Homo sapiens: one gene and its partner. The protein of the gene in region 2 purifies or fractionates together with the protein of the main gene of each other region. This does not show direct contact. Each region holds a gene or a part of one and is shown on either strand. Other genes may lie near its edges.

Region 1 (3,500 bases), on a different chromosome or scaffold from region 2:
ACCTTCTTTACAGGCGGGATGGTTAAATAAGTAGATGAAAAAAGTAGAAACATTAACATCTAGAAGTAATTTGCACAGTGATCAGCAAATTATCCTGGCAGTGATTTAAAACTCTAATGGTCTCCTTGGCTTTTGCCATCATCTCCAGGGCAGGTCTGGCTGTGGACACTGTGTGAATTCAGAGATGTAACTGTTTTGTCCTCACAGGAACAGTGGAGGCCATGTGTCTTTTGGCAGTCAGTCCAGATGGGAATTGGCTAGCTGCATCAGGTACCAGTGCTGGAGTCCATGTCTACAACGTAAAACAGCTAAAGGTGAGCATAGGGTTTCATGGCAGCAGTTTGAATCATTGTACAGGAGCCAGTTCACCCTGCAGTTACAAGATTCAAGGCAGATTGGCATGACCTGGAAATTTATTAGACTTTTTTCTTTTTATTTTCTTTTCTTTTCTTTTTTTTTTTTTTTTGAGACAAAGTCTTACTCTGTCACCCAGGCTAGAGTGCAGTGGCGCGATCTCGGCTCACTGCAACCTCAGCCTCCCGGGTTCAAATGATTCTCCTGTCTCAGCCTCCTGAGTAGCTGGGATTACAGGTGTGTGCCTCCACACCTGGCTAATTTTTGTATTTTAATAGAGACAGGGTTTCACCGTGTTGCTCAGGCTGACCTTGAACTCCTGAGCTCAGGCAATCCGCCCACCTCGGCCTCCCAAAGTGCTAGGATTACAGGCATGAGCCACCGCGCCTGGCCAGACTTTTTTCTTTTTAACTAATAATTTTTCCAGGTTTGGAATCCTGTTTTATTTTTATGGAACCCGGAAGCTATACTGTGTAACATTAAAAGCAGCTAATGGAAACAGTGAAACCCATTCATACCTGGAAATTTGAAATTAATGATCTGTGGGTGATGTAAACACATCCAGGTTCTTTCTGTATTTTCGGGAGGAAAATTCTGATATACACAGACAAATAGTTGCAGATAATAAGAGTTCCTTTCATGGCTTGCCTTGTAATCTCAAGGTAAACATAATCAAAACTTCGAAAAAGGAATACTGGGAAAACATTTTTCACTAATCAGTAATGACGCTGTCAGTCATAAATTGAGTCATTAGTGATCCCTTACAAGTCCTCATCTTCATTATAAGAATCAGATTCGAACTACCCAAAACTTGGAATAAGCATTAAAAGTGTATAGAATAACATCAAACTGCAACACTTAATGGGTTTACCTGTTAACTGCATAGTGTAACCTTTGTTGCATTATGGTAGGAGCATGTACTGAGCACTTGTCTTTGAGCCTTGCCTGGCATTTAAAGAGTGTTTGTGTGTAGCGTGCACATGCTTTGCAATTGTACATAAAAATCCATGCCTAGGCATTTATTTATTTTAAACCTGGTGTAGAGCTGTAGACTCCCTATTCAATGACACATTTATAAGCAGTTTGTACAGATGGATTTACTCAGAGGGAAAGGCTTTACTCTCAGTTCTCCACAAACGCTGTTAGTTTTGTACGCGGTTAAATAAGCTTTTTATTTTTTTGAGACAGGGTTTCACTCTGTCACCCAGACTGAGTGCAGTGGCACAGTCACAGCTCACTGCAGCCTTGACCTCTCTGCTCAAGCGATCCTTCCACCTCAGTGTCCTGAGTAGCTGGGACTACAGGCGAGTCCCACCACACCTAGCTAATCTTTTTTTTTAGTAGAGATGAGGTTTTGCTGTGTTGCCCAGGCTGGTCTTGAACTCCTGGACTCAAGCGTTCCTCCCGCCCTGGCCCTTCCGAAGTGCTGTAGTTACAGGTGTGAGCCACTGCGCCCAGCCAATAGGCCTTTTGTTTTTTTTTTGAGATTGAGTCTTGCACTGTTGCCCAGGCTGGAGTGTGGTGGCGCAGTCTCTGCTCACTGCAACCTCCGCCTCCTAGGTTCAAGTGATTCTCCTGCCTCACCCTCCTGAGTAGCTGGGATTACAGGTGCACGCCACCACACCCAGCTAATTTTTTTAATTTTTGGTAGAGATGGGGTTTCACCATGTTGGCCAGGCTGGTCTCAAACTCCTGACCTCGTGATCCGCCTGCCTTGGCCTCCCAAAGTGCTGGGATTATAGGCATGAGCCACTGCGCCCGGCCAACCAATAGGTATTTTTTTAAGAAAATGAGGACTGGTGCGGTGGCTTACGCCTGTAATCCCAGCACTTTGGGAGGCCGAGGTGGGTGGATCATGAGGTCAGAAGTTCAAAACCAGCCCGGCCAACATAGTGAGACCCCGTTTCTACTAAAAATACAAAAATTAAGCCAGGTGCAGTGGTTCACGCCTATAATCCCAACACTTTGGGAGACCAAGGTGGGTGGATCACCTGAGGTCAGGAGTTTGAGACCAGCCTGGCCAACATGGTGAAACCCCGTCTCTACTAAAAATACAAAAATTAGCCAGGCATGGTGGTGGGTGCCTGTAATCCCAGCTGCTCGGGAGGCTGAGGCAGGAGAATCACTTGAAACCGGAAGGTGGAGGTTGCAGTGAGTCAAGATCATGCCATTGCACTCCAGCCTGGGAGAAAGAGTGAAACTCCATCTCAAAAAAAAAAAAAAAGAAAAACAAAAAATTAGCCGGGTGTGGTGGTAGGCGCCTGTAATCCCAGCTACTTGGGAGGCTGAGGCAGGAGAATCACTTGAACCTGGGAGGCAGAGGTTGCAGTGAGCTGATTATCACGCCACTGCACTCCAGCCTGGGTGACAAGAGCGAAACTCCATCTCAAAAAAAAAAAAAAGAGAAGAAAAAGAAATGAAAGTTCATTGGTTGGGGAAATGCCTGAAATTTTTGGAACTTCCCTAGAACCCTTTTGAATTATGAGGAGCAGTATTTAAACCCCTGACCTAGACCATTCAATCTTTGCTGAGGAAAAGTGTCACTTAGAGTTGCCACTTGTGTCTGTTATTTGTTCCCAGCTTCACTGCACGGTGCCTGCTTACAATTTCCCAGTGACTGCTATGGCTATTGCCCCCAATACCAACAACCTTGTCATCGCTCATTCGGACCAGCAGGTAAGGGAGATTCCAGTGCTTTCTATTCCCTTCCTGCTGGATAGTAACCTAGAAGCTGGAATATTGGGCAGTTGCGGGGAGCTTTTTTTTGAAGGTGTTGGAGGATATAAGGTAGTTTTCTCCTGTGTGAAGTAAAGCTTCCTTGCCGGTCTGGGCTCATCATAGGCCAGCAGTATGCATTGGTTTGATGGGATGCAATTTAAATGGAGAAGCACTAAGATTCTAGAGTAAAGAATCACAAGAGGGAGGAGGAATTTTGAAGTACTCATTTTCCTGATTGTTTTAGAGGAGAGATGACATGGGCTTGGGTATTAAACTGGATATGGGATGGAATAAGATTTTGAGAGTTGAAAGTGACTAAAAGATTGTATCATTCACCTTTACGCTTGCCGATGAGGAAATCAAGCCCTAATAAGATCAGGTACCTAATCTCAGCCAAAATTAGAACCTAATCTACTTTTTTCTATACC
Region 2 (3,500 bases):
CCCTATTTCTTTTCTTTTTATAACTTAAAGTTTTATTTTAGATTCAGGAGGAATATGTGCAGGTTTGTTACGTGGGTGTATCACATGATGGCGAGATTTGGGGTACAAATGATTCCATCACCCAGGTAGTGAGCATAATACTCAACAGTTAGTGTTTCAACTCTTCTCCCCAACCTCCCTCTTCCCTCTATTAGTCCCCAGTGTATGTTGCTGCCATCTTTATGTTCATGTGTACCCAATGTTTAGCTCCCACTTATAAGTGAGAATATGCAGTGTTTGGTTTTCTGCTTCTGCATTAATTCACTCAGGATAATGGCCTCCAGTTGCATCCATGTCACTGCAAAGGACATTATCTTGTTCTTTTTTATGGCTGTGTAGTATTCCATGATGTATATGTACCACATTTTCTTTATCCAATTGACCACTGATGGGCACTTAAGTTGATTTAGTATTTTTGCTATTGTGAATAATGCTGCAATGAATATACGAGTGCCATGTGTCTTTTTGGTACAATGATTTATTTACTTTTGAATATATACTCAGTAACGGGATTGCAGAGTCAAATGGTAGTTCTGTTTTAAGTTCTCTGAGAAATCTCCAAACTGCTTTCCATAGGCTAGACTAATTTACATCCCCACCAACTGTATATAGGCATTCCCTTTTCTCTGCAGCAGCTCCAGAATGTGGTTGTGTTTTTTTTGACTTTCTGATAATAGCCATTCTGACTGGTGTGAGATGATAGCATATTGTGGTTTTGATTTGCATTTCTCTGATGATTAGTGATGTTGAGCATTTTTTCGTATGTTTGTTGGCCACTTGTATGTCTTCTTTTGAGAAGTGTCTGTTCATGTCTTTTGCCCACTTCTTAATGGGGTTCTTTTTTGTTTTTTGAAATATAATTTTTACAGATTCTGTATATTAGTAATATGTTGAATACATAGTTGGTGAATATTTTCTCCCATTCTTTAGATTCTCTGTTTACTCTGTTGATAGTTCATTTTCCTGTGCTCCAGCTCTTTAGTTTAATTAGGTCCCACTTGTCAATTTTTGTTTTTGTTGCAATTCCTTTTGAGAACTTAGTTATAACTTTTTTCTCAAGGCCAATTTTTTCTCAATGTCAAGAATGATATTTTCTAGGTTTTCTTATAGGATTTTTATAGTGTGAGGTCTTATATCGAAATTTTTAATCCATCTTGAGTTAATTTTTGTCTATAGTATTAGATAGTGCTCCAGTTTCATTCTTCTGCATATGACCTACTAGCTATCCCAGCACCATTTATTGAATAGGGAATCCTTTCCCCATTATTTATTTTTGTTGATTTTGTTGAAGATCAGCTGGCTGTAAGTGTACAGCTTTATTGCTGGGTTCTCTATTCTGTTTCATTTTTGTATCTGTTTTTTGTACCAGTACCATGCTGTTTTGTCTACTGTAGCCTTACTGTATAGTTTGAAGTCAAGTAATGTGATGCTTCCAGCTTTGTTCTTTTTGTTTAGAATTGCTTTGGCTATTCAGGCTCCATTTTGGTTCCATATGAATTTTAGAACAGTTTTTTCTAATTCTGTAAAAAATGACATTGGTAGTTTGATAGGAATAGTATTGAATGTATACATTGCTTTGGGTAGTATGGCCATTTTAACAATATTGATTCTTCCAATTCTTGAGCATGGAATGTTTCCCCATTTGTTTCTGTCATCTATGATTTCTTTCAGCAGTGTTTTGTAGTTCTCCTTGTGGAAGTCTTTCACTTCTTTGGTTAAATGTATTCCTAGGTATTTTATTTTTTGTGTAGCTATTGTAAATGGGATTGCATTCTTGATTTGTCTCTCAGATTGAATGCTATTGCTGCATAGATATGCTACTGAGTTTTGTACCTTTATTTTATATCCTGAAACTTTATTGAAGTCGTTTATCAGTCCCAGGAGGCTTTTGGTGGAGTCTTTGAGTTTTCTAGGTATAAGATTATATCGTCAGTGAAGAGAGACCATTTGGCTTCTTATTTTGCTATTTGGATGCCTTTTATTTCTTTCTCTTGCCTGATTGCTCTGGCAAGGACTTCCAGTACTATGTTGAATAGGAGTGGTGAGAGTGGGCGTCCTTGTCTTGTTCCAGTTCCAGTTCTAGTTCTAGCATTCAAGGAGATGCTTCCAGCTTTTGCCTGTTTAGTGTGATGTTGGCTGTGGGTTTGGCATAGATGGCTCTTATTATTTTGAGGTATGTTCCTTCAATGCCTAGTTTGTTCAGAGTTTTTATCATGAAGGAAGGTTGGATTTTATCAAAGTCTTTTCCTCCCAAACCCCTATTTCCAGATAAAGTTACATTCGTGGATACTGAGCATTAGGATTTCAACATTTGGTTTTGGAGGACACAATTCAACCTACAATATATCCAATAACAAAACGAATGACAGCAGTGCATTGCCTATATATTCCTAGGTTCAAAGTCAGCAGAAAGAAGAGTATGTCTCTCTCCTAACCACTCAGGCAAAACCATGACCTGTCATTCACTGGCCCTAATGTGCTCATCCCTGAGCAGTCACCGTGACCAGAGGGATATGACACCGTGTTTGTCAGACATAAGTGCCCTGCCCAACACTGGAGCACCTAGGCCAAGCATGTAGGAAATGTAGGCTTTCCAGAAGAACATTAGAAATCATTACTAAAGAGTAATGGATACCGGATGGCCAAATAGTTCTTATACATCAAGACAATTTAAAATACGTCCAAGATAATATGATTAATAAAGTATAAATAAAGTAGATATAGCATAGACATGTGGTTACTCTTTACCCATGATGTATTATTTTTCTTTTATGTTTTGTTGAATCCCAGTTTTATTGAGGTATGATTGACTTACATTAATGTGCACATATGTAAAGTGTAAACTTGATGAGTTTTAACATATATGAAACCATTACCACATTCAAGATAATAACTATCTCTATCACCTGCAAAAGTTTTCTTACATCCTCTTGTAATCCACCCTCCCCTGCCCTGCCCATTCCTAGGAAGCTTAATCTGTTTTCTGTCCCTATAGATTAGTTTGCATTTTTAAGAATTTTATATAAATGGAATTATAAGTAGGTATTATTTTGCATCTAGGTTTTCTACTCAGCCTAGTTATTTTTGGTTCTATCCAAGTTGTTGTGTGTATAAATAGCTCATTCATTTTTATTGCTCAGTAGTATTCTATTGTATGGCTATACCACAGTTGGTTTGTTCATTCACGGTTTGTTTATCCATGGACATTTGGGTCATTTTCAGGTTTTAGATATTATAAAGAAAGATCTCAATTGGGAAACGCTTACTTAAAATTAGAATGTATTTTATTTAATTATGAATAAATTATGTGTAAGTGTAACGTTCGTTGCAATATTTATCTAAAATGCTGATAAAATTTTTTCCTTTTTCCTTTCCAGATACTGAGGAGAGCAGACAAAAATGGTAAGACCAAAAATCTACAGTATCTATTTATTAATCTCTTACATTTTATATTACCTTAT

Evidence for each region.
Region 1: the proteins of NECAB1 (region 2) and UTP4 purify together in Homo sapiens (affinity purification with mass spectrometry; 2 studies listed by BioGRID and IntAct, with this or other methods). This does not show direct contact.

Annotation. Positions count from the first base shown.
Region 1 is NC_000016.10:69,160,149-69,163,648, forward strand, and holds part of UTP4 (U3 small nucleolar RNA-associated protein 4 homolog), read left to right. Parts: intron 1-207; coding exon 208-314; intron 315-2,934; coding exon 2,935-3,030; intron 3,031-3,500. UniProt on the Homo sapiens protein: Ribosome biogenesis factor. Involved in nucleolar processing of pre-18S ribosomal RNA. Part of the small subunit (SSU) processome, first precursor of the small eukaryotic ribosomal subunit.
Region 2 is NC_000008.11:90,798,275-90,801,774, forward strand, and holds part of NECAB1 (N-terminal EF-hand calcium-binding protein 1), read left to right. Parts: intron 1-3,416; coding exon 3,417-3,441; intron 3,442-3,500.